Homo sapiens: one gene and its partners. The protein of the gene in region 3 purifies or fractionates together with the protein of the main gene of each other region. This does not show direct contact. Each region holds a gene or a part of one and is shown on either strand. Other genes may lie near its edges. The genes, in order: POMT1, USP30, RFTN2 and RABGAP1L.

Evidence for each region.
Region 1: the proteins of RFTN2 (region 3) and POMT1 purify together in Homo sapiens (affinity purification with mass spectrometry; 2 studies listed by BioGRID and IntAct, with this or other methods). This does not show direct contact.
Region 2: the proteins of RFTN2 (region 3) and USP30 purify together in Homo sapiens (affinity purification with mass spectrometry; 2 studies listed by BioGRID and IntAct, with this or other methods). This does not show direct contact.
Region 4: the proteins of RFTN2 (region 3) and RABGAP1L purify together in Homo sapiens (affinity purification with mass spectrometry; 2 studies listed by BioGRID and IntAct, with this or other methods). This does not show direct contact.

The regions. Positions count from the first base shown.
Region 1 is NC_000009.12:131,499,044-131,505,968, forward strand, and holds the start of POMT1 (protein O-mannosyl-transferase 1), read left to right. Parts: upstream 1-3,874; 5' UTR 3,875-4,030; exon of another isoform or gene 4,031-4,270; intron 4,271-5,145; 5' UTR 5,146-5,175; coding exon 5,176-5,297; exon of another isoform or gene 5,298-5,606; intron 5,607-6,925. UniProt on the Homo sapiens protein: Transfers mannosyl residues to the hydroxyl group of serine or threonine residues. Coexpression of both POMT1 and POMT2 is necessary for enzyme activity, expression of either POMT1 or POMT2 alone is insufficient.
Region 2 is NC_000012.12:109,082,712-109,089,256, reverse strand, and holds the end of USP30 (ubiquitin carboxyl-terminal hydrolase 30), read right to left. Parts: coding exon 6,514-6,545; intron 6,415-6,513; coding exon 6,195-6,414; coding exon of another isoform or gene 6,084-6,194; intron 4,305-6,083; coding exon 4,184-4,304; intron 3,591-4,183; coding exon 3,326-3,590; 3' UTR 1,234-3,325; downstream 1-1,233. Other genes in the region: DNA oxidative demethylase ALKBH2, read left to right, coding at 745-1,051. UniProt on the Homo sapiens protein: Deubiquitinating enzyme tethered to the mitochondrial outer membrane that acts as a key inhibitor of mitophagy by counteracting the action of parkin (PRKN): hydrolyzes ubiquitin attached by parkin on target proteins, such as RHOT1/MIRO1 and TOMM20, thereby blocking parkin's ability to drive mitophagy.
Region 3 is NC_000002.12:197,567,049-197,575,509, reverse strand, and holds the end of RFTN2 (raftlin-2), read left to right. Parts: intron 1-2,478; exon of another isoform or gene 2,479-3,229; coding exon 3,230-3,502; 3' UTR 3,503-7,286; downstream 7,287-8,461. UniProt on the Homo sapiens protein: Upon bacterial lipopolysaccharide stimulation, mediates clathrin-dependent internalization of TLR4 in dendritic cells, resulting in activation of TICAM1-mediated signaling and subsequent IFNB1 production.
Region 4 is NC_000001.11:174,153,929-174,163,459, reverse strand, and holds the start of RABGAP1L (rab GTPase-activating protein 1-like), read right to left. Parts: upstream 3,941-9,531; 5' UTR 3,803-3,940; intron 1-3,802. UniProt on the Homo sapiens protein: GTP-hydrolysis activating protein (GAP) for small GTPase RAB22A, converting active RAB22A-GTP to the inactive form RAB22A-GDP. Plays a role in endocytosis and intracellular protein transport.

The DNA of each region.
Region 1 (6,925 bases), on a different chromosome or scaffold from region 3:
TTAAGGGGGAAAACAAAAGATGACTTTATTTCACATTCAAGAAAATCAGTTCAGTTCCAAAGCTGTGGTCCTTCCAGCCACTTCTAGGGACACTGGGGAACCTTGTTAAACGTTGACATCAGTGCTCTCCAGCCGTGCTGTCACCCTCCTATCTTCTGGATCTGCCTTCGCGATGGTCAGTGACAGCTTCTGGAAGCTGAGCACACACAGGTGCACAGCCATGCTGTGGTCTGGCCTGCTACGGCAGCATGGCAGCTCTGGTGGAGCCTTCTCCCTTGCCATTTGGTTCCCCTGTGCCAAGTAGCTGCAGGCTGCCCCTCAAATCTTCATTTGTCCCTTTTCACTTCCTGCAGAACAAGCCTGGGTTAGAGGGTCTGCTGGAAATGGCCTTTGAAGACCAAGGATACCAGGATGTGTGCACTCTGTCGTGTTCTGTGATGAATGGGAAACGTAGGCTTCCAGAAAGCCAGCTCTCTTCTGAAATGTGACGGACCTAAGCAGGAAGTCATCCAGGACAGGAGTGGCTCAGTGTTGGGGATGGACGCTGTCGCCCAGCCATGCTCCACCAGGGCCACCAATGTGTAGTTGGCTGGTGGTCTTCGGGCATGTGAGACCTGCTCTTCACTGTTTCCACCCCACTTGGTGGCCTCCAGGATGGTAGTGGCACCCTCAGAGCCCCATCTTCAGCATGTTCTGAAGCCTCAGAGTGGAAATTCCTGCTAAGGCTCTGTGTGGACGCCTTTCTCCCGTGATCTAAAGGGGACACTGTACTCAAGCTTTTGACCTCATGCCTTGTGTAGTAAAAAAGGATTTGGGGGTTTTGTTTGGTTCCTGAGAGGGTTGTGTTTTGTTTTTGTTTCCTTTTGTTTATGTTTTGGCCTTTCCTCTTTGTCTTTCCATGTAGACCAGATATTTGAAAGGGCAGACGATGGCTAGAGGTGTAATGTGCAGCTTGTTTATACGGTATTTTGGGAAACTTACCTTGGATGGGAAATCGAATCGTGGATTCACCAGGCCGGTGCTGGCACACTCACCCTCGCCCTTTCCCTCCGGTTCAGTACCTATTGTTTCTCCTTTCAAATATGTGATTGTACTAGCTCTTTCCATATGAAAGAATTCTCCTTATTTAAATAAAAAAAGTTTAAAAAGATAAAGCTGAACGTGCTTTCTCAGGTTGTACATCCCTCGTTTCTTGGTCATTTGACCAGAGAGACCTACAGATCAAAGAATTCTAATTTTACAGAGTTCACACGGAAATTAGGAGTGGCACGGCTGAAATGCCTTAACAGAAGCTGTGTGGGTAGAGAAGGGATTGAAACCCGTGGCTAAGAAGCATCTTCCAAATGCGGCAGCATCAAGCACTCCACCCTCTTCCCACGGATGGCATCTGGTTGTGCACAGTGCCTGCCTGTGGCCCCGTCACTTGCCGTGAGAAACGAGCTGGTCAGAGGAGGTAAGCATTTGATGTGGCGTGTTGTGTTGTCACTTCTAGCGGTGCTTTTGCAGGAAGTGGAGGAGGATTATGCTGTGCTTTGGGGTGGGGAGGGAGCAAGCCAGGCCTGGGGTAGCGAAGGGTAAAAGGTAAGAATGGGCTGAGGCAGCAGTTCTCGGTTTTGCCATTGCCTCACTGACCTGGGGAAAGACGTTTCACCACCTGAGTCAGTCTCCTTAATCATAAAACACAGATTGTAATGGTATCGACCTCATGGCGTAGTGTGGATTCAAAGTCACCAGTAGCTTTTAGCTTAGTGCCTAGAACCAGCTAAGAAAACTTATAAATTACCCCCAAGAAATAAAACGCTGTTTCCATGAGGAACCCCAGTCCCTCAACTTCCTTCTAAGCCTTTTGACTATGGAAGAGAGTTGGGGACCTGGCCATGGGCATCTCAGCTTTAACTAGCCACACTCACTGCCCTGATTTACTGCTCCCTAGGGACAGGTGGCTCACAAAATCTCAAACGGAGACCAGCCCTGAAAGAGGCTAGTCCTAAGGTTGGGGGCTTGCAAGATGGAGGCTGTAAGTCCTGAGGCACCACCACTGTTAGCATGGCATGAACCAAAGCTTAACAGCCCAGCCCCACTCCCTCCTGGGGCCCAGGGAACCCTCCCTGCCCACTGTAAATACAGTTGCCTGCAGGCTCTGGCCACAAACCCAGGTGAGCCCCAGCTCCTTGCCTCTCTGTGGGATCTTGGGTGAGTCACATAACCCCTCAAGGGTAAGCCATAAAGAAGTAACCACGAAATTCTAACTGGTGTCATCTAATGCTATGTTGCCCAACATGGAAAAAAAGTCTTGCAGGCAGCCAAGAACCATAATGAAGGTTATTAAACCTGCAGTGTGCCCTTTTGGTCTGTATAGATTAACATACAAATAGACCAGGAGATCAAGAAGGAGCGAGGCTGAGAAGAGTGATCCATCAGCCTGGTTGCGTTGCTGTCAGTTACCCTGCTCTGGGTGCCGACTGTTCAGGGAAAACATGGGAAGGGGTGCATTGACCCAACCAAAAGTACCATGTCTGCTCCAAAGCAGGCCTTTGGGAAGGCTCTTGACCCTCAGCAGAGGGGGCTGGAGAGGCTGATGGATGAGGAGGAGCCCTGGGAATGGAGGAAGAAGCCTCCAGTCTTCTGCCACGGAGTTTAGGGGAGATGCCCCCACTGGAGCCTCTGATGGTCATGCAGCCCCCACTGATGTCCAGGTTTTTTTGGTTTTGTTTTTTGTTTTGAGACGGTCTCACTTTGTAGTCCAGGCTGGAGTGCAGTGGTGAGACCAAGGCTCACTGCAGCCTCGACCTCTCTGCCCCAAGTGATCTCCTGCCTCAGCCTCCCTTGTAGCTGGGACTGCAGGCAGACGCCAAGGGGCCCCGCTAATTTTTGTATTTTTTTGTAGAGACGGGGTCTCGCTGTGTTGCCCAGGCTCTCCTGGACTCAAGCGGGCTCACGGATCCTCCCACCTCGGCCACCCAAAGTGCTGGGGTTACAGGCGTGAGCCACCGCCCCCGGCCCTAGGTCCGTTTTAAATGCCCTTACCCTCAGCCACTTCACCGCTAGATGTATGTGCAAGCAGGATCGTGGCATCGATGTTTTTCGGCAAGGAAACTAGGAGCGCCCGCGGGCGTGGGGGCACGTGCCTGTGGTCTCAGCTGCTCTGGAGGCCGAGGAGGGAGGATCGCTTCGGGCAGAGAGGTCGAGGCTGCAGCAAGCCGTGGTCCTGCCACTGTACTCCAGCCTGGGCGACAGAGCGAGACCCCGTGTCTTAAAAAAAAAATTAAGGTCGGACGCAGTGGCTCACGCCTGTAATCCCAGCACTTTGGGAGGCCGAGGTGGGCGGATCACTTCAGGTCAGGAGTTCGAGACCAGCCTGGCCAACATGGTGAAACCCTGTCTCTACTACAAATACAAAAATTAACCGGGCGTGGTGGCGTGCGCCTTCAATCTCAGCTACTCGGGAGGCTGAGGCAGGAGAATCGCTTGAACCCGGGAAGCGGAGGTTGCGGTGAGCCGAGATCGCGCCATTGCACTCCAGCCTGGGCAACAAGAGCGAAACTCCGTCTCAAAAAAAAAGAAAAGAAAAGAAAAGAAAAAAACTAGGAGCAAACTGGCGCGCCCGGCAGAACGCCGTTGTGCAGACGCAGAATTAAGATCTTCACGCCAGATGGAGTGAAAAAGCAAGGAGCAGAAGATGGGTGGGAGCCCACTGCGCTTTTTAAAATCTGCACGTCTGCTTAGAGTACACAGAAATCCTGGCACACAAAACAGTAGCACCCGAGAGAGGGGAGGTCGCCGCGTTTCACACCTGCCTCTCCTCCGGGACCGGCGCCCTCGCCCGCTGCGCACGCGCGTCACCCTCTCCCAGTGCGCACGCGCGCTGCTGCCCGTCTGGCCCCGCAGGCTCGGTGAATCGAACGTTGAGCAGGGCGGTGGGTGGTGCGGAGTGCCGAGCGGCCTCACCCCCAACCGTCGGCCCAGTCGGACGGTTCCGAGGCGTTGCCGGGAGCCGGGCGCGGCTCTGTGTGGACTCGGAGAAACGCGGGTACATTTGGGGACACCGGGGACGAGAGCCCAGCCCGGACTTGGGGGAGTCCGTCAGTGCCGGACGCGGGTCCCTGGCTTGCGGACGGGCTGGGGCCGGGGGCGTCCCCGTCTTTCCGGAGCTGGGGGCGGGGTTCGGGCCCGGGCAGATGCGGCGTTCGGGCGGCCGAGCCCCGAAGTAAGAACTCCGTGGCGCGTGCAGCCCTAGGGAGGAAGGGCGTGCTGCGGGTGCAGTCTCAGGGTGAGGACGGAGCTGGGGCCGACGCAGCCTCGGGAGTTGGTGGACGGGACAGGTGCGGCCTGTGGGGAAGAAGGGCCGGCCAGGGAGATGCGGTCTGCAAGGGGAGAGGAGGCACTCCCAGGACAGATGGGACCTTTTGGGACGAAGGCGCTCAAGGCAGATGCAGCTCAGGGAGGGAAGGGCGCGTCCAGGGTAGATGGGGCCTGAGGAGACCAGCGGGGCGCCAACGGCCAGATGCGGCTTTGGTGTGAGACAGGGTGTCCCAGGCCTGATGCAGCCTCAAGAGAAGCGGAGCTCAAGGGAAGATGAAGCCTGGAGGAGAACGTGGGGGCGCAGGGTGCAAATGCACCCTCCAGGCGAGAAAGGGAGCACCCGGGGATGATGTGCCGCTGGGATAGAAGGCAGGGAGGCACTGGGGGCAGATGCATCCTTGAGGAGAGATGAGGAGGCCCCGAGGCTCGGCCAGGTTGGGGTCCCTGGGCTGTAAGCAGCTGAGATGGCACCCAGGAGCTGCCCAGGGTCAGGTAGCTGTGGCCGCACTGTGGGCTTCTGGTCGTCGGGGAGGGAGGGGAGAAACCCTGGCGTTCCTTAGCAGTGTTCTCGCGCCCAAGACGTGCTCGGCAGGTTTTGTGGAATGAGTTGTTGAAAGGAGTGAATGTCCAGTCCTGAGATCCCCTGAATTCCCACCCGAGTTCACTGCTAGTGCCCCTCACCCCACATGTCTACCTGAACCAAGGCTCCAGGAACTTCGGTCTTTCTCAGCAGCCCGGCTGTGCTGTGGTTCTCCTCGTGTGTCCGGGAGCCGGGTGGCTGGGGATCCCTTCTGTAGCCTCTCGTGAGCCCTCATGGACCACGGCTCCTCCCTTCTTTTCTAGGGCGTCTGCCTGAGCCCGCTTTTCTACAAGATGTGGGGATTTTTGAAGCGCCCTGTAGTGGTGACGGCTGACATCAACTTGAGCCTTGTGGCCCTGACTGGGATGGGGTTACTGAGCCGGCTGTGGCGACTCACCTACCCGCGGGCTGTGGTGTAAGCTAAATGACTCCATTCCCAGGGTGAATCTAGAATTGTACTTTGTGACAGGAGGCGCCCTTACTGAATAGCATAAATGGGAGAGTGAAATCCTGGCTTCTTGGTGATAGGTGTTTTTGGCAGTGAGAGGAGAGACCAGTCTGTCCCCAGGACAGCCCCAGCAGAGTACACCTTTTAGGTCTTGCCTTCTGAGTCTGTAACAGGTGAAATTTGGCCCATTAAAGGGGTGCAGTAGAGGAAAATCTGGTTGCCAGCCTTAAGTAACAGTTTTAAAGTCTGGACGGCAGAGGATTAATGGATTTGGAAGTAAGTCTTCACTGTTGAGAGCACTTTTTAGAATGTGTTTTTGTCATAATGGGAAGTGATTGCTGTTATTATTGAAGGGCTCTTTATTAACTGATTAATGTGTGTATGTGTGTGTGTGTGTGTGTGTGTGTGTGTGTGTGTGTTTTTGAGACGGAGTCTTGCTGTGTCGCCCAGGTTGGAGTGCAGTGGTGCCATCTCGGCTCACTGCAACCTCTGCCTCCTGGGTTCAAGCAATTCTCTGCCTCAGCCTCCCGAGTAGCTGAGATTACAGGTGCCCGCCACCACACCCAGCTAATTTTTGTATTTTTAGTAGAGACGGGATTTCACCATCTTGGCCAGGCTGGTATTGAACTCCTGACCTCATGATCCACCCACCTGGGTCTCCCAAAGTGTTAGGATTACAGGCGTGAGCCACTCCGCCCTGCTGCATGTTCTTTTTTGTTTAACTTTTTATTATGGAAAACGTCAAACATATACAAAAGCAGGGAGACAAGTATAATGAATGACCCCCCCACACACACCAGTATTTTCATTACCCAGCTTCACCTTATCAGTTCACAGCCAGGCCCCTCCCTGCAGTGGTTTTTACTTTGCAGCAAATCCTAGTATTCATAGATAATTCAGCGGTATATCTGTAAAAGATGAGGATTTTTTTTTTTTTTTTGGAGACATAGTTTTACTCTGTCGCCCAGGCTGTAGTGCAATGGTGCGATCGTGATTCTCCTACTTCAGCCTCCCGAGTACCTGGGATTACAGGCACCTGCCACCACGCCTGGCTCATTTTTGTATTTTTAGTAGAGAAGGGGTTTCACCATGTTGGCCAAGCTGATCTTGAACTCCTGACCTTGTGATCCACCTACCTTGGCCTCCCAAAGTGCTGGGATTACAGGCGTGAGCCACCGTGCCTGGCTGAGGATTCTTAAAAACAAAAATCACATAACCACAGTTGCATTATCATGCCTGAGAAATTGACAGCAGTTTCTTGGTTATCTTCACCTCTCCCTGATTGAAAACATGTTATTGCAGTTGATTCCCACGTTTTCCTTTCATACTTGCAGCCGTTTCATTGGGTCATCGCTAGCCACAGACATGTGCTGCTGGTGGGGGCGGGGGTGGGGGGGTTGGGTAGGTGGGTAAGCAGGATTAGCCTTGCGTCCCAGGAGGTCTTTCAGCAGGTTGGCTCATAGTATCCACCTAAATCAAACACAAGGGAGAGACAGAATCTGTATGGGCAGGCATGCTGAGTGCCAGCTGTGCTTGGTGAATTCCCCATGTCTCTGTGGGTGGGTGATGCTGTATGCATCTTAATATTTGGGGAT
Region 2 (6,545 bases), on a different chromosome or scaffold from region 3:
GAGGGAGAGCAGAGGGACTCTGGAGTGTCTGTGAAGCAAAAATGCTGCAGGATGGCCGGAAAGCAGTGAATGAGGGAAAGAAGGGGATGGCATGAGCTCAGCAGTGGGCAGGGGCCGGGCTATGCAGAGTATGGCCTTTGAGTGCAGGGCAAAATCATGTGATAAAGGTTTACATAGACTGGCCAGGGGAACTACAGTAAGACGTGATTTTGGCTTTGGGTGTCTTCAGTTTTAAAGCACATGAACTGGCCGGACGTGGTGACTCATGCCTGTAATCCCAACACTTTGGGAGGCCAAGGAGAGTGAATTGCTTGAGCCCGAGTTTGAGACCAGCCTGGGTAACATGGTGAAACTGTTTCTGCAAAAGAAAAGAAATTAGCTAGGTGGGGTGGTGCATACCTATAGTCCCAGCTACTTGGGAGGCTGAAGTGGGAGAATCACTTGAGCCCAGGAGGCCGAGGCTGCAGTGAGCTATGATTGTGCCACTGCACTTCAGCCTGGGTGACAGAGCGAGACCCTCTCAAAAATAATAATAAATAAGTCACATGAACAAATACGTCAACAGACCTCTTCAGCGTTGGCTTATCTTAGAGCCCACTGTGGACCTCAAGCCCTCGCAGAAACAACGGCAGGTACAGCCATGCAGAGTGCTGTTTCACACTGTGAGGAAAACGAGGGCTGGCGGTGCTGGTGAGTTTCAGGAGAGGGTTGTTTTTATGCACTGTGTTTGTTTTCTCATTGCAGGTATAAAGATGGCTGTGACCACATCGGGGAGCACCGAGATGATGAAAGAGAACTGGCCCCTGGGAGCCCCATTGCCTCTGTCTCCTTCGGTGCCTGCAGAGACTTTGTCTTCCGGCATAAGGATTCCCGTGGGAAAAGCCCCTCCAGGAGGGTGGCGGTGGTCAGGCTGCCGCTGGCCCACGGGAGCTTACTAATGATGAACCACCCGACCAACACGCACTGGTACCACAGTCTTCCCGTGAGAAAGAAGGTTCTGGCTCCACGGGTGAATCTGACTTTTCGTAAAATTTTGCTTACTAAAAAATAAAAACATTTTTAACAGTTTTTCTCTTTTCTCTTTCCCTCTCGACTCTAAGAGGGAGCTGGCATTTCCCTTACCAACAGGGAACACAGAAAGGTTTAAAGCGTAGGGCTTGTTATGTAACAATGCAGAATTCAGAAAGATGATGTTTGTAACAGATCAGTGTATTACAAAAGAACACCAGGTGATTTTTTTCTAACAAAATGATTATTTTATTGCTATAATACACAGCAGATACAAAAGTACCTTTAGCAAATACATAAATCAGCAGTTATTATGGCAAAACTACTAGTTTAACTTAGGTTTTTCCCAAAAGAAGCTACTTACTTTGAAAATAAAACTAGAAATCAGATTATTGGGCTGCTACTTAATGCATAATAATTTACAAAATGAAGAAGTCAGGTTAAAAGGCTTTGCACAGCTATTGTTCACATTTACAGCCTTGGCTCAAACCCTGGTCTCTGACCAAAGAAAGATCTGCTTATAACCATATATTCCAAGGCTCAGCCCCTTTTCTCTATCTTTCTTTGATGGTAGATTTCAGAGTAAGCAGTGGCAGAACAGCAATTACTTAAAGCTACAGCTTTGCAGTACACTTTAAGGTCACATGATTGGGCATTTGTTCCACCAGACTTGGGTAAAACAAGTGTGTTCATTTCAACATCAAAGTCAAGGTCTGCATCGGGTGAGTGCAGGACGGACCGTACAGTTCAAGCTGCCCCTTGCACCCTGACGCCCAGAGCCTGGAGAGCCTGCACAGAATATTCTGTTGAGAGTGAGTTACTGAGTCCTCAGGGTGCAGCCTGGGCCCAGCAGAAGAGTGATCACCTGGGCTTCCTGCACTGTGAGCTGCTGCCAAGGCACTGTTTGGTGTGTCTGCCAGCTCACCCCCAGCAGAGGAAGTGCGGTCTTAGCCTTACCTCAGATGACCTTTTGGAAAGGTCTGATTCCAAATCTTACCTCTGATGAGTCGGTTTGAATTTGGTATCCATTTTTCTAAATTAAAAATATAGCTTAAAACATAGGTACTACTGTGTCATCAAAATTCCTTTGGCCCTGGGCTGCATTCAGAGACTTACCTGAAAAGGGAAGAAAGTGCTCAATATATACTTTTTGTATTAGGCTATTGGAAATGAATAAATTCAGAATATGGACCTAGAGCAACATGACAATACTAGATGCCAGCTGTAGTTATATGTTTTTTAAAAAGTCAAAAGCTGCTTTCTCCTTTTCGTGAAAAGGGCTGAACTTTGGTGGTCATCAAATCTAACCCTTCACTTCACAAATGAGGAAACTGAGGTTCAGAGAGACTGCAGCCCCATAGTCAGCCCTTCCTTCCTAAGCCAGGTGTCAACTCAGGGCAGGGATTATTTTTTTATACAGCCCCAAGCTCCCACCTGTAAACCTTAAGAGCTCTGCATGGGCAATAAATAAACAGATGAAAGTAACCGTCCACAGTGGATCCTTGTGTAAGAAAAAGTTTTCCACAGAGCAGAGGAATCAGGTGTTGCAAAGATCCAGCTCAGTTCTGGCTATTCACAGAGTTTTATAATACAGTGTAATTACATCTCAGTCCAATATACAAAAGATAAAAGCAACAAGTAAGCTCTTCACTTATAACTGACAAAGTAGTGAAAGAGTTTCCCCAGGGGGCAGATTTGGCAGATGAGCCTTTACTCCATAGAAAGAATTGAAAGATTAGAAAAGGCATAGAAAAAGGAAGGTGTTCTTTAGGCATCATTTACCTGTTCTCTTGCTATCCTTTGAGTAGCCTGGAAGGAATATTTCACAATGGACGTGCTACAAAAGCAATCGAAAGTGAAAGGCACTTTTTCTTCTAAATTGTTGCCTTTAATAATTTCATTAATTCTTGTCAACAATTTTTATGGGCCTGCTTATTAAAAATAAAAGATCTAAGTGGAAACGTTGATTAGACAAAGGTACCTCCCCTCTGAGAACACCTAACATTACAATATGAAAACGGTGGCTTCAAGAATCTGAGTTCTTTTAATTACCTGTATCAGATGAGTAAAAAGACACTCCGGACATAATGAATGCTTTCTTAACACAACAGAACCACCTACACACATGAACAGGACTGTTCAGGGAGCCTGGTTTGGTGTGAACTGGGGCTGGCTCCCAGGTGGAGCCTGCTCTTAGAACACACCAGAAGGCTGGAAGGCTCTAGTGGGGCCGCTTGCACACGCAACAGTACAGTTTTACTTTTTTCCTGGACAGTGCAGACAGTGCCATCAGCTCTAGCCTTGCAGGAGGGCACAGTCATTCTTCAGACTTGCACTCCTGGCTCTGGTGCTGCATCCTGGAAAGGACGCGCTCGTAGAACAGCAGGTAGGCGCTGGAGGACAGGACCTCCTGCAGGCTGGCCTTGCGGACAGTGTCATCGGAGACCCACAGCCACTGATTGCTAGTTGAGAGAGGGTTCCTGGCAGAAGGTGGGGACCGTCGGTAAGTGACAAAGTGTCCAGAGTGCATGTCTCCATGGTGGACGACAACTGCCATCAGCCGGAAGAGGTATGTGGAGGAGCTGAATGATACGAACACATGTCAGGGGTTTACAATTTTAACAAAAAGACTTTATAGGCAAAAACAAAAGAATGCTAATGTTAAATAGGGGATGAATACAATGGTAAGTCCATACCACCAAATGCTACACAACTATTAAAATACAGATCTGTATTTACTGGCATGGCAAGATGTACATTCTATGAGTATATGTATATTGTGTATATGTGGATGTTTGTATCAATGAGTGTATGTGTTTATGTACACTATATGTATGTGTGATGTACAACTTTATAGAGTGCATGACCCTAAGTGTTTAATTGGCTATCTCTAGATGGTATCCCAAGAAATTTTAAATTTTCTTTATATTTTATACATACACACATATATACACACATACATATGCATATGTAAATTTTATGTACTTTAAAAATTTTTAATTTAAAAGTTATTTCCATTTTGGACAAAAATAAATAGGAATGTGTAATCGTGAAACTTCACCTTAAAATGAAAAATAAACATCTATATTTTCCTTAATTCATTTCTGTGAAAAGCTAATTTTAGAAGCTAAGAGCAGTGGTAGCTCTAAGATGGGGCTTGTAAAGGGTGGCTCACCTGTAGTCGGGAACAACTGGGAGAGGGAAGGGCATCGGCGCTGACAGCGTTGGCAATAAAGATGGGGAGCAGGCGCCATTCATAAAAATCTGTGTTTTGGGGGCCCCTGGCTGATTCAGAACTGCAAGAGAAAAAGGCCCGAGTCAATGAAAATTAGCAGTGGCTCTGTAAACAAAACCTGGTTTTGATTACCTTGAAAGTTAACTCCCCATAATGCTACAAAGAAAAAAATCTATTTCATTTGGTATTATATAGATTCATAAAATAATCTGCCCTTTATCCTTAATCTCAAATAGGGATAATCTGTCTTAATCCCAAATAGGAAAAGTGTATCTAGCTCCAGCTTTACGGCTAGCCTGGGATCTTTGAGCTTCCTAGCCCTGTTTGCTAATGCCATGTATCAAAGTTAATCAGTAGCTAATTTACTGGCTTTTGACCTAAACCAAGGTTTCTCAACAGCAGCACCATGATGGTTTTGGCTGGATCATTCTTTGTTGCGGGGGCTGTCCTGTGCATTAGAGGATGTTGAACAGCATCCCTGGCCTCTACCCACTAGACACCAGTAGCACCCCTCCCCCAGTAGTGATAACCAAAAATGTTACCAGACACTGCCCAATGTCCCTTGGGAGGCAAAACTCCTCCAAGTTGAGAACCACTGATCTAAGCATTCTATTTGCTTTAATTCTGTCAGCTTCTAAGGAATACCAACGTGTAATAGCATTCATACATGTTTATGGGTAGACAACATAATTAAGGCCATATTTACATGTCTTTTCCTTTCAAGTGTCATTTTTGGGGGCTGTTATGTACCAAGTAGTTTCCTGATGACATTTTTTGTGTGTGTTTTAGACAGGATCTTGCTCTGTTGCCCAGGCTGGAGCACAGTGGTGTGATCACAGCTCACTGCAGCCTCAAACATCTGGGTTCAGGCAATCCTCCCACCTCAATCTCCCAAAGTGCTGGGATTGCAGGTGTGAGCCACCACGAGTGGCCCTACTGCTGGCATCTTTAACCACAGCCAGCATGCTCTCAACATTAGTAAACCTGCACCCCAGCCCAGGAGATGGGGAAGCTGGGGTGCAGAGGTCTTTGATTTAAAACCAGGGCCAAGGACTGAACCAGAGTCTGTCCCCTACCTCATCTCTTTTCGATGTTAATCTAGTGACTTGATGAGAAAGAGGAAAACACAATCTCCCTGACATGATGAGGTGTCGGGCCATGCAACTGTGGTCATAAAAAGAACAAAAGGAGTAAGGGACCCTAAATAGGAAAGTATGGGGTGTGAGACAATCCTGACCTAACTGGGGGCAGCAGACAGGTGGTGAGTTCAGGCTGTGAGCCCTTCAAGTGAGTGGGTTTTCCTCATGTCTAACTCTAAAGAACTCAGTGTGTCACATGAGACACCTTTAGAAAATGGCCCAACATGGCATTCTAGGGCCAGTTCTCCTGTGTGGTGTTTGCCCTTGGACCAATCATTCAACCCCGTGGAGCCTCCATGTTCTTATCAGTAAGACCGGCGATAATAGCTACCCGGCTTAAATGAGACCTCAGCTGAGGGCAGTAATGGAATCAGATACATAATTCAGTACAGAAGGCATTTCAACCCCCAGAAGAGGCTCAGTGATCTTTAGCCAGGACATGTCCTCCCTACATTTCCTCTACTGACAGGAAATGACATGACCGAAAAAAGAAATTCACTGGAATGATGTGAGCCAATGATTATATCATTTAGCGGAAAAATTAGAAGGCAAAGCTGCAATTTTAAGCGTTTCTCTCTGTACTTTTTCATCTGTAATATGGTTTCAAAAACGATACATCTCACTGCTACATAATTTTAACCTCTTCTAAGAAATCTTCCCTCTTCCACCCCCAATCCTGCTGTTCTCAAGAGTTTAAGCACCATTGTACAAGCCTTGTGCTCCTGTCATAAGGGACCCAGAAGGTGGTGATGCCAAACTGCTTTTCTCTGTGCTGAAAATTCCTGCTGCATCGGCTCCTCGCGCGCACACACCTGGTGTGGGGGCTCCCGGCCCATCCTGCAGCTCCAGTGTAGGCCCTGGGTTCTTGTTCAGTTTAGGGTTGTGTTGACTAGGTTTATGTCCAAGGAGGTGGTACTTGTAAATGTCCATCATCAGGAACTCATTGAACTGCACGTGCTCATGCCGCTTCAGAGGCGTGCCGTGGCTGGACCAGCTCAGCCGCTGTAGGTGGATGCAGAGACACTGAGGGAGCTGCGGGTGGAAGAGAAATCGGGAGAACCGAGTTGTTTCAGGGGCAGGATACACGGAGTCCTCAAAACAAAGCCAACAGGGTGTGTAGTGTGGGCTCACCTTCCCTAGTTTTAACTGTTTAACAAAAGTGG
Region 3 (8,461 bases):
TCCACAGTTGATCAGAGAGTCTGAATGAGCTGGATTGAATTGTTGAGCATTTATACTGTGTAAGGCAGAAGCAGTTTGCAGCAGGACAAGGAAAGGGTCCACTTCACCCTTGAAGACATTCTAGACACTCGCTCAAAATAAACTCAGTCTGAATTATCCATGTAAACTAGTCTGTTCTCACGTTGCTAATAAAGACATACCCAAGACTGGGTAATTTTTAAAGGAAAGATGTTTAATTGACTCACAGTTCCACATGGTTAGGGAGGCCTCACAACCATGGCGGAAGGTGAATGAGGAGCAAAGTCATGTCTTACATGGCGGCAGGCAAGACAGCACATGCAGGGGAACACCCCTTTATAAAACCATCAGATCTAATGAGACTTATTCACTATTACAAGAACAGCATGGGAAAGACCCACCCCCATGATTCAATTACCTCCCACTGGGTCACTCCCACAACACTTGGGAATTATGGGAGCTACAATTCAAGATGAGATTTGGGTGAGGACACAGCCAAACTATATCATTCCACCCCAGCTCCTCCCAAATCTCATGTCCTCACATTTCAAAACCAATCATGCCTACCTAACAGTTCCCCAAAGTTGTTTTTTGTTTGTTTGTTTGTTTGTTTGTTTGTTTTTGAGATGGAGTCTTTCTCTTGTTGCCCAGGCTAGAGTGCATTGGTGTGATCTTGGCTCACTGCAACCTCCACCTCCCAGATTCAAGTGATCCTCCTGCTTCAGCCTCCCAAGTAGCTGGGATTACAGGCGTGTGCCACCACACTCTGATAATTTTTGTATTTTTAGTAGAGATGAGGTTTCACCATGTTGGTCAGGCTGGTCTCAAACTCCTGACCTCAAGTGTTCCTCCTGTCTCAGCCTCCCAAAGTGCTGGGATTACAGGTGTAAGCCACTGCACCCGGCCAAAAGTCTTAACTAATTTCAGCATTAACTCAAAAGTCCACAGTCCAAAGTCTCATCTGAGACAAGGCAAGTCCCTTCTGCCTATGACCCTGTAAAATCAAAAGCAGGTTAGTTACTTCCTAGATACAATGGGGGTACAGGCATTGGGTAAATACATCTATTCCAAGTGGGAGAAACTGGCCAAAATGATGGGGTTACAGGCCCCATACAAGTCCAAAATCAAGTGGGGCAATCAAATCTTAAAGCTCTAAAATTATCTCTTTTGACTCCCTAACATCCAGGTCACACTGATGCAAGAGATGGGTTCCCATGGCCTTGGGTAGCTTTGCCCCTGTGGCTTTGCAGGGTACAGCCCCCCTCCTGGCTGCTTTCATAGGCTGGCATTGAGTGTCTGCAGCTTTTCCAGGTGCACAGTGCAAGCTGTCAGTGGATCTACCATTCTGGGGTCTGCAAGACGGTGGCCCTCTTCTCACAGCTCCACTAGGCAGTGTCCCAGTAGGGACTCCATGTGGGAGTTTCCACCCCACAATTCCCTTCCACACTGCCCTAGCAAGGTTCTCCATTAGGGCTCCATCCCTGCAGCACACCTCTACCTGGACATCCAGGTGTTTCCTTACATCCTCTGAAATCTAGGCAGAGGTTCCCAAACCCCATTTCCTGACTTCTGTGTACCCACAGGCCCAAAACAACATGTGAGCCACCAAGGCTTGGGGCTTGCACCCTCTGAAGAAATAGCCTGAGCTCTACGTTGGCCCCATATAGCCATGGCTGGGATGCAGGGCAGCAAGTCCCAAAATTGCACAAAGCAGCAAGGCCCTAGGTCCGGCCCACAAAAACATTTTTTCCTCCTAGGCCTCCAGGCTTGTGATGGGAGGGGCTGCCATGAAATGCCCTGGAGACATTTTCTCCATTGCCTTGGCAATTAACATTTGGCTCCTTGTTACTTATGCAAATTTCTGCAGCCAGCTTAAATTTCTTCTCAGAAAATTGGTTTTTCTTTTCTATGGTATCATCAGTCTGCAAATGTAAACATAAGTTCCAATTCCAAACCATATCTTTGTGAATACCTAAAACTGAATGTTTTTAACAGTACCCAAATCACCTATTTAATGCTTTGCTGCTTAGAAATTTTTTCTGCCAGATGCCCTAAATCATCTCTCTCAAGTTCAAAGTTCCACATATCTTGAGGGCAAGGGCAAAATGCCACCAGTCTCTTTGCTAAAACATAGCAAGAGACACCTTTGCTCCAGTTCCCAACAAGTTCCTCATCTCCATCTGAAATCATCTCAACCTGGACTTCACTGTCCATATCACTATAAGCATTTCGATCAAAGCCATTCAATAAGTCTCTAGGAAGTTCCAAAGTTTCCCACATTTTCCTGTCCTCTTCTGAGCCCTTCAAACTGTTCCAACCTCTGCATGCTACCCAGTTCCAAAGTCGCTTCTACATTTTTGGGTATTTTTATAGCACCCCCCACCCCCGCCACTCTACTAGTACCAATTTACTGTATTAGTCTGTTCTCATCCTGCTAATAAAGACATACCCGAGACTGTGTAGTTTACAAAGGAAAGAGGTTTAATTGACTCACAGTTCCACGTAGGGAGGCCTCACAGTCATGGCAGAAGGCAAATGAGGAGCAAAGTCATGTCTCACATGGTGGCAGGCAAGAGAGAGCATGTGCAAGGGAACTCCCCTTTATAAAACCATCAGATCTCATGATACTTATTCATGGGATAAGACCCACCCCCATGATTTGACTACCTCCCACTGGGCCCCTCCCACAACACATGGGAAATATGGGAGTTACAATTCAAGATGAGATTTGGGTGGGGACACAGCCAAACCATATCACTGTGACTCTTCTGTGCAGCCTGTGTCTACATGACATGGGTGTAAGGTGGCCATCAAAGCACCTTTTCTGCTGTATAGATCTGAACTAACACTAAGAAGAAAAACATATTAGTATTTATACCTTGCTTTGTTCTCCCAAAGTATGATTTCAACAAATTTCCTTCCTTAGAGATGTCACTGAGGGCCGAGATGTGTACATAACATACCCATCAACAAGAATGATGTGCCAGGAACCTACAAAGAGTTACAAAACAGGGAGAAGGGAGTTCATTTGTATTTGGGTGGAGAGGGGAATGTGGAGGTAGCTCTGAGCTGGTCGTTGAAGATGAGCAGGATTTTGAAGAGCTGGGGAAAAGGACATTCCTGGAGGCAGAAAGGCAGCATGTGCTAGACCAGAGGGACAGGAAACACCCATCTTTTTAACTCTCCTGGTCACCAATGTCTTGTGTTTCAGAAGAAAGCCAGCCGCCACATAAAAGGTGAAGACAAGAATAAAGCCACTAGTAGAAGCATCGGATTAGACACAACCTCGTCACAACCTGCAGAGAGCAGACACCTGCCTGAGGAGTGCCGCCTTTCTCCCTCCCGGGAATGCTGGACAAAGGAGGGAAGGCTGGCACAGCACAACAGCTTCTCTGGGTTCAGCAGCAGTGACAACGTCCTCCGGGAATTAGACGACGGACAGTTTGATCAGGAAGATGGAGTGACTCAGGTCACTTGTATGTGAGCCATGAGGTGAAGCAAAGGAAGGCCCTGTAAATAATTGTTAAAATCATTGCCAACTGACCTTATTGTATTACTTTCTCTGCATTTATGTAATATTTTTGAATTTTTCCAGACCCAGCCTTTCCTCTAATCTATGTAAACTTTGGCACAACCTCCCAGACAAGGAAGAATAACCAACATATTTATACATTTAGAATCATGTTTACACTTCTCTCAACTAAAACATCTGGTTAAACAGATGTTCCATTCGGTTATTACACAATAATCTATTTCAGCTTCTCATGAATGTACAAAGTAGACTTTCTTACAATTCCTGGTAAGGAGACTGAATATCTCAATCAGTATTTTACCCAATTAGAGAGAGTTCTCAGGAAGTTACAGTCTTATTTAAGCTGAAAAATAACCTCTCTCTCTCTTTTTTTTTCTCTCTCTCTCATACACACACACAGCTAATTAGTGCAAATAAATATCTATTTCCCAAATATAATAATTAATCCACATTTTGTCTTTAACTATAGCATGTATATACAAAGCAAGCCCCTATGTGTTAAAATATTTTTTGAAAAAAATCTTTTTTATGTATCTTTGCTTTTAAAGGGTCATGTCACCAACCCTGTACTGATTCATTGTACATAAATGTTGTTGCTCCTAAAAGCCTAAAAATGCAGACAGCAAAGCAGCATCTCTTAAAATTCAATATGAAAAGAACCCATAATCTCAATACATAAATACCTTAGTAGAGAGTAAGATTTAATTTTTTTTTATTTTAAAGTCCAAATACTATGAAGAGGAAAAATATCAACTTCAATTTGAAACTGAAGTCTTTTACATCTGTCTAGATTTGAATTCTGCTTTTATTTTGACTTGTTAAATCCTGAAGAATGTTGAAACCTAGAATTTTCAATCTGGCAGGAGTAGAAAGATGCTCATAGCACACGCGATATGTATGATAACATATTTTGTTTCATCTTGCTTTTCTTTCCCCTTCTAATAGAGGTGGCTTTGCCTTGACCCAGCCTTTAACAATCTTTAAAATTCTACAAAATAAAGGATTTTCATTTATCTATGAAAGGCTTACTTTGAAAGATGGAACCTCCAAGTGAATTACAACTTATTCTATCATTGATGAATTCAGCCTATTATATATTTTTATTAACATTGATGTTGACATTGTAAGATCATTTTAATAATAAAACATCATTTTTATTGTGTTATTGTTTTATTGAACACAAATATTCATATAATATGTTTGGTTTGGGGGTTTTTTGTGGCTTTTTTTGAGACGGAGTCTCACTCTGTCACCCAGGCTGGAATGCAGTGGCACAGTCGCAGCTCACTGCAACCTCCACCTCCTGGCTTCAAGCGATTCTCCTGCCTCAGCCTCCAGATTAGCTGGAACTACAGCCAGTGTGCGCCACCACGCCCAGCTAATTTTTGTATTTTTAGTAGAGATGGGGTTTCACCATGTTGGCCAGGATGGTCTCGATCTCTTGACCTCATGATCTGCCTGCCTTGTCCTCCCAAAATGCTGGGATTACAGGCGTGAGCCACCATGCCTGGCCTTCATATAATATGTTTTATACATATAACAGATATGTATTACATGTTATCAATTATATAGTGTATCTAAACTAAGTCAATCTCCATTAATTGCTGATAAAATTAACAGGAATTATTCCACTTTTATCATCCAGAAGTACAGTATAAAGGAATTTAAGAATATTCTTCTCAGTCTTATTCTATAGCAATAGCTGTCAACAATATTTGCAGAAATGGTTTTTGTTTTGACTTTTAGATGGACTTGAGTTCCATAATCAAGAGTTAGTGGATTTTTGGTAGAAACAATCACTGCTTCAGGAGTCCATAAAACGTAATGAAGTTAGGAAGCACAAAGAACAAATCAGAAAGATCTGTTTTTCCCAATTCCAGGGTCTACAAGAGGTAGAGACTTCTTTATCATTCAGCCCACATACATAGGGGATTGGAAGTAGTAAATTAAAAACAGAGATAGGAATTTATATTTGACTAAGAAAAAACTCAGAAATATAGCAATAACTTTTTTTTTTTTTTTTTTTTTTTGAGACAGAGCCTCACTCTGTCACCCAGGCTGCAATCTCGGCTTACTGCAACCTCCGCCTCCCAGGTTCAAGTGACTCTCCTGCCTCAGCCTCCTGAGTAGCAGGGATTACAGGCCTGCACCACCATGCCTGGCTAAGTTTTGTAATTTTAGTAGAGATGGGGTTTCACCATGTTGGCCAGGCTGGTCTCGAACTCCTGGCCTCAAGCAATCCACCCACCTTGGCCTCCCAATGTGCTGGGATTACAGGTGTGAGCCACTGCACCCAGCCAAGCAATCGCTTTTTTAAAAAATTTGTGTAAGCATACTTTCTCAGTTTATTTTTTTCTCCCCTCCCGTTTATTTTTAATCTGAGTTATTTCTTATTAAAATAACTTTTATTAAAATAAACTTACTAGTCTGTCATATCCTCAAAACTTGTTTTAGAAGCATTTGCTCCAACAATTACCCTTAAGTTATGTGATGAATTTGTATGATAGCGAATAATTTATGATCAAGTGGTTCTAGAGTATTTTAAATGTGTGTAAATAGCTATGAGCCTATTATTTTAAAAAAAGAAAAAAACTTGGGCTCTCTATGCCTAAGGAGTTAAATATGTCTAATTTTATTATCTGCCAGTTGTATATTCAGTTCTTTTTATAACACTATGATTTCCTTAGGGGCTCTGGCATGTGAATTTTTAAAACCTGTAAGTTATAATGAAAGGTATCAAGATCCCAGATGTTGGGTGAAGATCTGCCATTCCCCTTGGTGTAGTATCTATGGCATTTTCATCTTCGTTTTCAATACCAAGTGTTAATTCCATCCCCTTTGGATTGTATACCACCTTGTTATCTTTTATGGACACATTTAACACCTACCTAATCACCAGGGAAATCAGCTCTATCAGTGTCATTACAATTCATTTCAGTAAAAGAGAAAAGGAAAGGTCACCCTCTTTGAGAGATTCTAGGGCTTTCAGGAGGAGGAGAAGCAGGAGACAGAGCTACAGTCTATTCAAATCACAACTATCTCCAAATCATTTGTGTTATCAGGAGCAGGTGTTTATATATTTGAATATAAATGTAACAGATGCATTTTCATTTCTTTCATTCTGGAGTGCCAGAGGAGCTGTCCCGTTTTCCCGCCCTTGCCTGTTATTGATTCCTCACCACCATTCCTTCTTGGCTGGAAGGACTGTGGCCCTTTCCCTCCCCATATGGCTAAAGAGGATTTCTTTCTCTTAACTCTTCAGAGCCCCAGAGTAGTACTGTATGGAAAGTGTAAATTCAGATGGAGAATCAAATGAAGTGAAATTGCTAACAATGGGGATAGTATATAACTAAGAACACATTATATAAAAATGTACTAGTGGATACATAGAAAAACTAGCTAAATGTTACTCATCAGAACTTGTAACATATCAATTTAAATAACATTTGCTGGTAATCTATCATCCCTTGAGAATGAATTTTATTTGTGTAATAGTGCAAAGTTTGCAGAACCAGGTCTGTCAGATATTTAAGTTCTGAGATGGTGTTTGAGGCAGAAAATTAGGCAAAACTGTAAAATGATGAGCCTCAGTTTTGATGAGGTTCATAAAGTTTTGGTGAAGACGACTGCAAAAGAAATGGGTTCTAAACATGTTTTGAGCATTCAAATTTTTGTATGTAAAAATACCAAGTAATTAAATCAATGGAATAAATGAATCATTTATGTGTAAGATAAATGTATAAGTATCAAGGTGAGTTTGTTGTTTGTTTGTTTGTTTTTGTTTGTTTGTTTGTTTGAGACAGAGTCACACCCTGTTGCCCAGGCTGGAGTGCAGTGGCATGATCTCGGCTCACTGCAGCCTCTGCCTCCTGGGTTCAAGAAAAATTCTCCCACCTCAGCCTCCCGAGTAGCTGGGACTACAGGTGCACACCACCACACCCAGCTAATTTTTCTATTTTTAGTCAAGTAGGGTTTCACCATGTTGGCCAGGCTGGTCTTGAACTCCTGGCCTCAAGTGATCCACCCACCTCGACCTCCCAAAGTGCTGGGATTACAGGTGTGGGTCACCACGCCCAGCCAAGGTGAGTTTTTGAAGGTTTATGTAAGCCACATTATTACCTGTAAGCAACAGAACTTAACTTGGCTTATTTAGCAATAAAGGAGTTTTTTGTTGTTTTTGTTTTTTGTGGGTTTTTGGTTTTTGTTATTTTTTGTTTTTTTGAGACAGTCTCACTCTGTCACCTAGGCTGGAGTGCAGTGGTGTTATCATAGCTCATTGCAGTATCAATCATCCTGGGCTCAAGCGATCCTCAGCCTCCCAAGTAGCTGGGACTACAGGCATATGCTACCACACCCAGCTAATTTTTGTATTTTTTATAGAGACAGGGTTTCACCATGTTGCCCAGGCTGGTCTTGAACTCCTGGGCTCAAGCAATCCCTCCCGCCTTGGCCTCCCAAAGTGCTGGGATTACAGGCATGAACCACCGAACCCAGCCCAATAAAGGAGTTTATTTCAAAAGATATCTGGAGGCCAGGCACAGTCACTCACACCTGTAATCTCAGCACTTTGGAAGGCTGAGGAGGAAGGATCACTTGAGGCCAGGAGTTCCAGACTTTTGTTCTACAAAAAATACAAAAATTAGCTGGGCATGGTGGCTGGTGCCTATGGTCCCAGCTACTCAGGAGGCTGAGGTGGGAGAATCACTTGAGCCCAGGAGGTGGAAGTTGCAGGGAGCCAAGACTGCACCACTGCACTCCAGCCTGGGCAACACAGTGAGACCCTGTGCCACCACCCACCCACCTCCAAAAAAATATCCGGAATTGGACTTCATCAAAATTTTAAATTTCCGGCCAGGCACAGTGGCTCACGCCTGTAATCTCAGCACTTTGGGAGGCCAAGGCGGGTGGATC
Region 4 (9,531 bases), on a different chromosome or scaffold from region 3:
AAGTACACCAAAAAACACCAAAAGATAACAAAAAAGAGTTAGCATGCGCATAAACTTCGTATACCCAATTATGCCATCCCATCTGTTGAATAAGAGCAATATGGGAAGTAAACGAAGTATAAAAAGAAGATGTTCAGAGATGCAAGCTCTTCTTAATTCATTAACTCTTCCTTATTAGGGTCCACTGATGTTCACATACTTATACCCAATTCAAATACTGACTATAAAGTCAAAATTATTTCCCGTTCTGAAAGTCTAGGAGTCAAACAATGTCTTTCTCTATAATATCAGCATTAAAACTCTCCTTTAAAAATGAGTATGTTTTACCATAACTCAGGCTCAAGTCCGTACTTTCTCCGCCTCCACTGTTTGTAATGGCAAAATGCTCATCAGATCATCTCCACAAGAAACCCCTGAGCCATCTTTGAAATACCAGCACCTGGTGCGCTGCACCCACTAACTCATCATCTAGCATTAGGTATATCTCCCAATGCTATCCCTCCCCCCTCCCCCCTCCCCACCACAGTCCCCAGAGTGTGATATTCCCCTTCCTGTGTCCATGTGATCTCATTGTTCAATTCCCAGCATGGCACATGTATACATATGTAACTAACCTGCACAATGTGCACATGTACCCTAAAACTTAAAGTATAATTAAAAAAAAAAAAAAAAAAAAAAAAAACAGAAAGAGAAAAAAAAAAAAAAAGAAATACCAGCACCTGGAATAGCCTTGGGCTGCTGGTCATCCTCAGACTCAACGGCTGACCCATTTATATAAGTCAAGAGTTATAAAAATATAGAACTCATTAAAATTAAGACATAAGCAAGCTCTGTGCCTGGGAATCCCATAGGCTTACAGCAACAACTTCATTCTCCAAACCCCCTCTAACCAGTCATAATGATCCATACCCCACTTGAAGACAATGGTAGGTTGGAATGCAGGCCCACTTCTACACCTTCAATATAGGAAATTTTTGCTACTTAGCCACTACTCTCTTCAAAGTCAATCTCTTGAAGCCTAGCTATCTCCCACACATATTTTTACTTGGCACAACAGAATTCCTTCTTTTGATTACTCCAAAAGCATGGATAAAAGGACTTTCTGCTTCAATGCTGTATCATCTGAGAGTTCAAATAAATATACAATGGCTGAGCAAATTCAAGTTTGGGTTAAGGCAAAGAAAAAAATTCAAGTTTTTTAAAAGTCACAAATTTAGAACTGGAGAGCTGATCACATGAAAACTCCTGTTTCACATGCCTAATAAAATTCTTTCATTCAAAGGAAAAAAAAATCATAACTACCAGCGTAAAAAGAAAACATCTAAATCATGAAACAATTATCAAAGAAACAAAAATTCTCAGAACATCGCAACTGTAATATATAGAAATTCCCATCAAATAACTCAGGTGAAAAAAAAAAAAAATGGGACAAGCACCGTTGGCTCAGGCCTGTAATCCCAGCACTTCGAGAGGCTGAGGCGCAAGGACTGCCTGAGGCCAGGAGTTGGAGACTAGCCTGAGCAACATGGTGAGACCCTTGACTCTACAAAAATAAAACAAAAAATTAGCCAGGTTTGGTGGCATGTGCCTGTGGTCCCAGCTACTCAGGAGGCTGAGGTGGGAGGATCTCTTGAGACCAGAACTTCGTGGCTGCAGTGAGCTAGGACTGAGCCACTGCACTCCAGCCTGGGCGCCAGAGCGAGACCTTGTCTCTTTAAAAGAAACAAACAAACTTCATCTATTTACAGTCACACTTTTTTAGGTTGGTTTGTATATTCACCATATGCCCCAATAGTACTGAGACTTACTAACTTGTTTCCAGCTTTCTAGAGGACAATGTAGGTTATATAATATGTTCACATATAAGCTCTACCCTATTTCATCTACTTCTCCCCATATGACTTACTAGTACACATCAGAGGCCGGGCGCTGTGGCTAACGCCTGTAATCCCAGCACTTTGGGAGGCTGAGGCGGGCAGATCACCTGAGGTCAGCAGTTCCACCAGCCTGACCAACATGGAGAAACCCAGTCTGTACTAAAAATACAAAATTAGCCAGGCGTGGCGGCGCATGCCTGTAGTCCCAGCTACACAAAAAGCTGAGGCAGGAGAATCGCTTGAACCCGGGAGGCGGAGGTTGTGGTGAGCCGAGATCGCGCTGTTGCACTCCAGCCTGGGCATCAAGAGCGAAACTTCGTCTCAAAAATAATAATAATAATAATAATAATAATAATAATAATACACATCAGAGCAAATGTAGGCTACATAATATGTTAAAATATAAACTCTGCCCTGCTTTATCTACTTCTCTCCAAATGAATAATACATAATATCAGCGCATTTATTGAACTGATTTAGTATAGACACCAGTCTAACTCAAAGTCTAGAGCTAACCCCTCAGGCAGGTGTACATTTAATACAATTTGATGATAATGTATACATAAAGTTCAACTAGTCTTTCTCCTTAGAAATCTCATTGTCAATTTCATAAGGGACGCTCTACTGAGAAAATGAATCACAGGCCAGTTTTCTAGTACTAGGAGCTTGTGAACCAGTATTTTCCATGAACAAAATCCACTTCCAATGTGATCACAAAAAGCAAACTTCACATCCGTATCTTCTGACATCATAACTAATGGATATTCTACGGAAGATGCCAAATATAAACACTACTGTAAGAAAAGTCAGAAGGTTTTCATGAAACTGTGTTTTCAGAATTTTAACAAGCAACTACTTACCTCCCACTATGCACGAGGAAATTTAAATGTATTAAAAATCCCTAAACCCCTCCAGTGCCAAAAATAAAGGCCTTAAAATCATTTTCCAAACTGCGCTGAAATCTGTCAGGCAAGCAAAAGTTCTCCTTACCATTAGTGTAATAAGGCTGGCATTTCAGTTTACTTGCATGAAACCAATTTTGCAAGTGACCACCCAAGTTTTGGTACATATTCTAATATAACCCTATCTGAGAGATCCAAGGACCTGGACACACTGCCTAGTATCTGAAACCCGTCAGTTCAGCTCCCATGCACCCGGCCACCTCCCGCTAGCCGGTGGCCCCTTTCCACATGCTGACGCACTGCCCAGCCCTGTACCGTTGGCGACCAGTGCAAAGTACTAGCCCAGTCTCAGAAACTTTGACTCAGTTATCAGGACACTGAGCACTCACAAGGTGGGTGGGGGTTGGGGGGAGGTGTTTGTCATGGCTCAGGAGGTCAACTTTGAAGCGGGGCATTCCCTACAGGTAGGGATCTGCCCGGAACGCATCCCATCCCAAACTGCAAAACCACAAGCATCAACAGCAGGAGCCGAGCAAAGTGCTCGGCGGAGGAAGAGGAAGGGCGAGGGAGAGAAATGGTCGAGTACAGAAGCCTGCGTGTGGGTAAGAAAATACCCTAACCACTCGCCCACCGGACGCAGGGCGGCTGGGACTGCGAATCCAGCAGCAGCCACAGCGTAGCAGCGGGCGGCAGCCGCCGAGGCAGCAATGTCAGGAGGGCACAGCTGGAGGAGGCGGCCGCCAAAGCCACTACCCCACCCCCAGGTAAGGGCGCCGACCCCGCCCGCCCTATCCGCGAGGAGCGGCCACCTGGGAGAACTGCGGTGTCCGGGAGGCGGCCGACAGTCCTGAACCCGCCCCCTACCCTCCTTACCGCGGTCCTCCCGCATCCCAGTCCTCGGCTGGGGCCCCATCTCGACCCTCCCCAGGCTCAGCCCGACGCCAACACACCCAGGCAGCCTCGGCCCGCGGATCCGGGCCGCCGGGCCGCCCTCGTGTCCCTAGGAGGCCGTCCTCGCCTCACCTCTTCACGTCTCCGCGGGCGCTGCCGAGACAACAACTCCTTCAGGCGCCCGCGTTCCACCCTCCACCTCGCGCTCTGAAGCCGGGCCGGTCCCGTTCGCTCCGCCACCGCTGGAGCCCGAGGAGGGCGGAGGGAACTGAGAGGGGAGGGGAGAAGGGCCGCCTGGCAGGAAGAGGCGAGGGAGGGGGCGGGCCGAGAAGGAGGGGAGGAGGCGGTGGCGGCGGGTCGGAAGCGCGCTCGTCCAGGCCCCTCTGCGCGGCGTGCGCGCTCCTGATGTCGGAGGCGCCCACTCTGCCGGGCGGCGGCGGCGCACACGCGCGTGCACGTCGCTGCGTGGCCGCGGTTGCGCCGGGAGCGGAGGAGTGAGGTCCTGACAGAACCAGAGCTGTTAGAGCAGGGACGCGCGAAAGGCGGGAGTACGGGCGGCGCTGGAGAACCTCCGCGGCGGAGGGGCCTGGGGGTGGGACCGCGCCCGCGAGCCCGCCCTGACCGGGGTGCGTTCTACTGGCAGTTGCTGAGTTCGGAAGATTAACTCTGAATGTGGAGAGATTATTTTCTTGCTCGTAAACCTGGTTTACATATTTTCATTCTTAATGCTCAGTAATCTTAAGGAAAGTCACCTGAAAGAATACTTTTTCACCAAGTACTCTTCTGCGCCTGTTTGAAGGTGTCTGTGTGCTTGTGAAGCGCTCCCTTGTTAGTTCCTTCTGTGAGACTCGGGGGAGACTGAAGAGGGAAATCACCTGCGGGGAATGAACAGGAAAGCAATAAGTAAGCACCATTACGTATTATATGAAGAAAATGTGCCCTCATTTGCACCTTTTTATCCTTTGGGGTAAAAGATGTTGAGGTACAAACTAGGTAGAGGTAGAATAAACCAACGCTTTTTCGCTACGAAGATTGTACTGATCCTTGAATTGTGGACATCCTTCTTCTAGATCCTGCAACCAGAAATGACCTGTAAATTTTCCGAATCTCCTTAGCACTTTGTTCTGTAGTTTTGTGGCACCTAACATGTCAGGCTTATCCAGGTTGCCCTGTGCAGCATTTTATCCCACTAGACAACCGCTGTGAACCTGTATCATTCATTTGTATCTTACACTGTGCACCCTGCCTAACTCATAGGAAGCACTCAATGAATGTGATTGCATGGATAAGTGAATATAGTGTCCAGTGATTGCAGCCATAGAATGACTTTAGTTTAAATATCTCCCTTCTATCCCACTTCAATTCCCCTGCCCTCATTTTCCCACCCATATTTAAAAGCTACTCTGAGAAACGTGACATTTGTCCAAAGGGCCCTCCCTGACAAATTCCTTCCCCCCACACCCCCGCTTTTCCTGATGTTAATGTCTATAGATGCTGAGACATATCAAGAGTGTTGTAACTATTTTTTTGTTTCCCCTACCTTCTGGGCTGCTTCCCTTATTAACTTCTGTATCTCAGGAGCCTACCTAGCCCTGGGCCTGACAATAAATGCTGAAAGTTTTTATTATATTTAATAAAGTTAGGGTTAGAATAACATAAATCATCTGTTGATTTCCTGAGATGTACAGGAACTATTAATAAATCTGCCAACCAGTAAGTACTAAGCCTCTACTAAATAAAGTACTAGTAAATTTACACTGCGCGCCATGAGGAAATCAACAGTTGACAAAGCCGCAGTTTCTGCCTTCAGGTATCTTCTAACTGGAGTGAAGCTTTTTGACAAAAAAGGACAATGGATGTGGTAATTATGGGCATTCAATAGGTAACTTAGCTAAAAAAGAATTTAAAAAAAAAATGGCAAGTCCAAAACAAGTTTAGTGTTCCCCAAATTCAGTTCCATATGTCTTTGAAAGCAATAGTGGACACCACTGGCCACTGCGAGTTAATTCTTCTATTTAAGTGGAGCATGCTATCTTCATGTGCCAACTTGCTATAAGGAAAAGAAAAATCCTGTCCCATGGCCACATGTAACACCTCTCATCAACAGGGGTCATTCTTTAAAACTGAACTTTTCCTCACAGTACAACATAGATAAGAGACAAGTCATGAGAGAACCTAGATAAAAGACAATTAAGGTGATCTGATGCAAACTCATCCTTACCACCAGAAAAACAATTCTAAGCACATGCCAAAAAATTATTAACAGATCTTCAGGCTTTTAGTCGAGAAACTAAAAGGAATAAAAAATTAATAACAAAGCATTCTTCATGTGGTATGTGCTGCTCACTTCTCTTTCCACTGTGGCTTCATTTGCATTAAGCGTATCCTAGCAGCCCTGGTCCATGAAAGGACTGAAACTCTCACTTTGAGAGATGGTGTTATAAAATACTCCAGCATGATTCATAACATGACAAACTGGTGCCCCAGGTACAAATCAAACCCACAAACATGTTTTGTTTGGCATACATGGTGCTTAAAAAAACACATATCCAAAGTTAAAAACCAGAAGATTATACATGCATTTTGGGCTTCTCTTTAAAAAGTGGAAGATTTGGTAACAGTGAGCTTACATTATTACATGATAACGATCAGCTGCAGGACATGCATTCTCTCTTTTGCCAAAGTCTCTACATTCTCTATTGTATCTTACAGTGTTGTTTCTCTCATTTATGTCTGCAACTCCTAGTTTAAAATGTAATATCAAAAATTGGAAACAGACCAGGTGCAGTGGTTCATGCCTGTAATCCCAGCACTTTGAGAGGCCAAGGCAGAATTGCTTGAGCCCAGAAGTTCAAGATTAGCCTGGGCAACATAACAATACCCTGTCTCCACAAAAAAGAAAAAAAAAATTAGAAACAAGTTAAACATTGAACAATAATGTAAGAGTTTAAACTGGTATCTAATGGTACAGAATATCATATTGATTTTATAGTGAGCATTATATTGATTGATTCCCCAGAATATATTTCCACCCCTCTGCAATTGCAAGACAGCCAAGGATCTGATTAGGCCCATCTCCCGCTCCAGGTGTGGACAGTGATTGTGATAATCAGCCTAATCCCATTCTCACTTGACCTGTCAGTATTCACTGATAGGCACTGACATGAGTCTAAATTGGTGCCAGTCACATGGAAGGCCATATCTTGTGTTTGTTGGGAAATGAAAAGTGCTCTTTTTCTTACTCTGGCTAGTGTGATGGGTAGATGTGAGTCCAATAGTTACTGCAGCCACTTTGCTACCATGAGGAAGCCAGCCTGAGGATGAAGCTGACACATGATGGAAGCACTCAAACCCAGCTTGAAGCCTACCCCTTCCTCTGAGACAATAAATTTTCACAGCTTTTTTTTTTTTTTTTAAACAGTCTCACTCTGTTGCCCAGACTGGAGTGCAGTGGCGCAATCTCGGTTCACTACAACCCCTGCCTCCCGGGTTCAAGCGATTGTCCTGTCTCAGCCTCCTGAGAAGCTGGGATTACAGGTGCCCACCACCACGCCCAGCTAATTTTTGTATTTTTAGTAGAGATGGGGTTTCACCATATTGGCCGAGCTGGTCTCAAACTCCTGACCTCAGGTGATCCACCCGCCTCGGCCTCCCAAAGTGCTAGGATTACAGGCGTGAACCACCGTGCCCGGCCTGATTTTGACAGCTTTTTAAGAAGGTTCGAGTTTGGCTTTGTATTTCTTACAGATAAAGCTAAATCTTTCCATGCATACTATGGAACAAATAACTTTAGTTGCATTATATGACTCTTCCAAGGATACGTTTCCAATGATAGAAAGGTAACAAGCTGTCTGGCAAGATTTTACAGGGTCTTGAAAGGAATTTGACCACACCAAAAAATCCTTCCCTGACTGGGCTACCTGATGCCTGAAAGCCCATCGTTACACTTTTTTTTTTTTTCACTTTGACTTAAATCCTGTGCCCTATTTAAATCAACTTTGCCCAAGAAGAGCACTTCATGACTCGAATCACTAATCTTATATAAATGAGTTTATCACATGATTTTTTAGTCTTTTTTTTTTTTACTAACAGGAAGATTTGGAAAAGAGGCACTGGCTACTGGAGGAAGGGAGAAATCACCGAGAGAGCGAAAGATGTAACAGGTAAAACTGGAGATACAGAAGAAAACCTTTTTTATTTCACGGTTTTATGTAGGGCTGAAATTCAGAGTAATCTGGACAAGTCATAATGAGCTTATATGATAAACCAAACCTGTGTTGCAATCGCCCATTTAAGACTAAGAACACAATAAAATATGTATATAGGGAGCAGAAAATTTCCTCAGCAGTAGAAGAGGCAGGCAGAGATCTAAATGCCTGTTTTATTTTATTTTTTTGAGACAGAGTTTCACTCTTGCTGCCCAGGCTGGAGTGCAGTGGCGCAATCTCGGCTGACTGCAACCTCCGCCTCCCGGGTTCAAGCAATTCCCCTGCCTTAGCCTCCGGAGTAGCTGGGATTACAGGCACGCACCACCATGCCCAGCTAATTTTTGTATTTTTTTAGTAGAGACAGCGTTTCGCCACATTGGCCAGTCTGGTCTCGAACTCCTGACCTCAGGTGATCCACCCGCCTCAGCCTCCCAAAGTGCTGGGAGGGATTAAAGGCATGAGCCACTGCGCCTGGCCCTAAATGTCTCTTGAGGAAGAATAGCTAGCCTACTACTTTTATTTCTTTTATTTTTTATATTTTTTATTTTTTGAGACAGGGTCTCACTCTGTCACCCAGGCTGGAGTGCAGTGGTGCGATCTTGGCTCACTGCAACCTCCACCTCCCGGGTTCAAGTGACTCTCCTGCCTCAGCCTCCCAAGTAGCTGGGATTATAGGTGCCCACCACCACACCTGGCTAATTTTTGTATTTTTAGTACAGACGGGGTTTCACCGTGTTGGCCAGGCTGGTCTCAAACTCCTGACCTCAAGTGATCTGCCCACCGTGGCCTCCCAAAGTGCTGAGATTACAGGCATGAGCCACCATGCCCAGCCTCTACTACTTTTAGAATTTGATACTTAATGTAAAGGACACCTACCAAAAATGGTTTTTCCCATACATTATGGTAGGTGTCTGAAATTCATCTCACCATAGGAGTCCTTTTCTTTTATGTGGGGCAGTGATCCTCTGTAGTGTATAACAAAATCACCTTGGGAGTTTATAAAAATGCATATCTCTATGCTCAACCCCCAAGAAATTCAGTACCTCTAAGATAGGCCCCAGGACTTGTTTCAACTTTTTCTTATAAAAAATGTTTAAGCACATAAAAAGTAGAGAGAAGAGTATAATGAGCCTTCATGAGTCAGTCATTCAGCTTGAACAATTATCAATATGTGGCCAATCTCCTTCCCCACCCCTCACATGGATATCACCCATAAATACTTCATCATATAAAGCTCTAAAAGATAAGAATTCTTGACCAGGCATGGTGGCTCAGGCCTGTAATCCCAGCGTTTTGGGAGACCGAGGCAGGAGGATTGCTTGAGCCCAGGAGTTTGAGACCAGCCTGGGAAACATAGCTAGACCCCATCTCTACAAAAAATTTAAAAATTAGCCAGGGGTGATGGCACGCACCTGTGGTCCCAGCTACTTGGGAGGTTGAGGTAGGAAGACCGCTTGAACCTGGGAGGTCAAGGCTGCAGTGAGCCATAAGGGGGTGACAAAGCAATACCTGTCTCAAAAAAAAAAAAGATAAGGATTCCTTTTTGCAATCAATAAAATCCAGAATGTGGGAAACTCTATAGGACATACCACCAAGTTTCTTCAGCAAATAAATTGCATACATATAAGTGAGAAGAAGGATCTGTTGAACTTG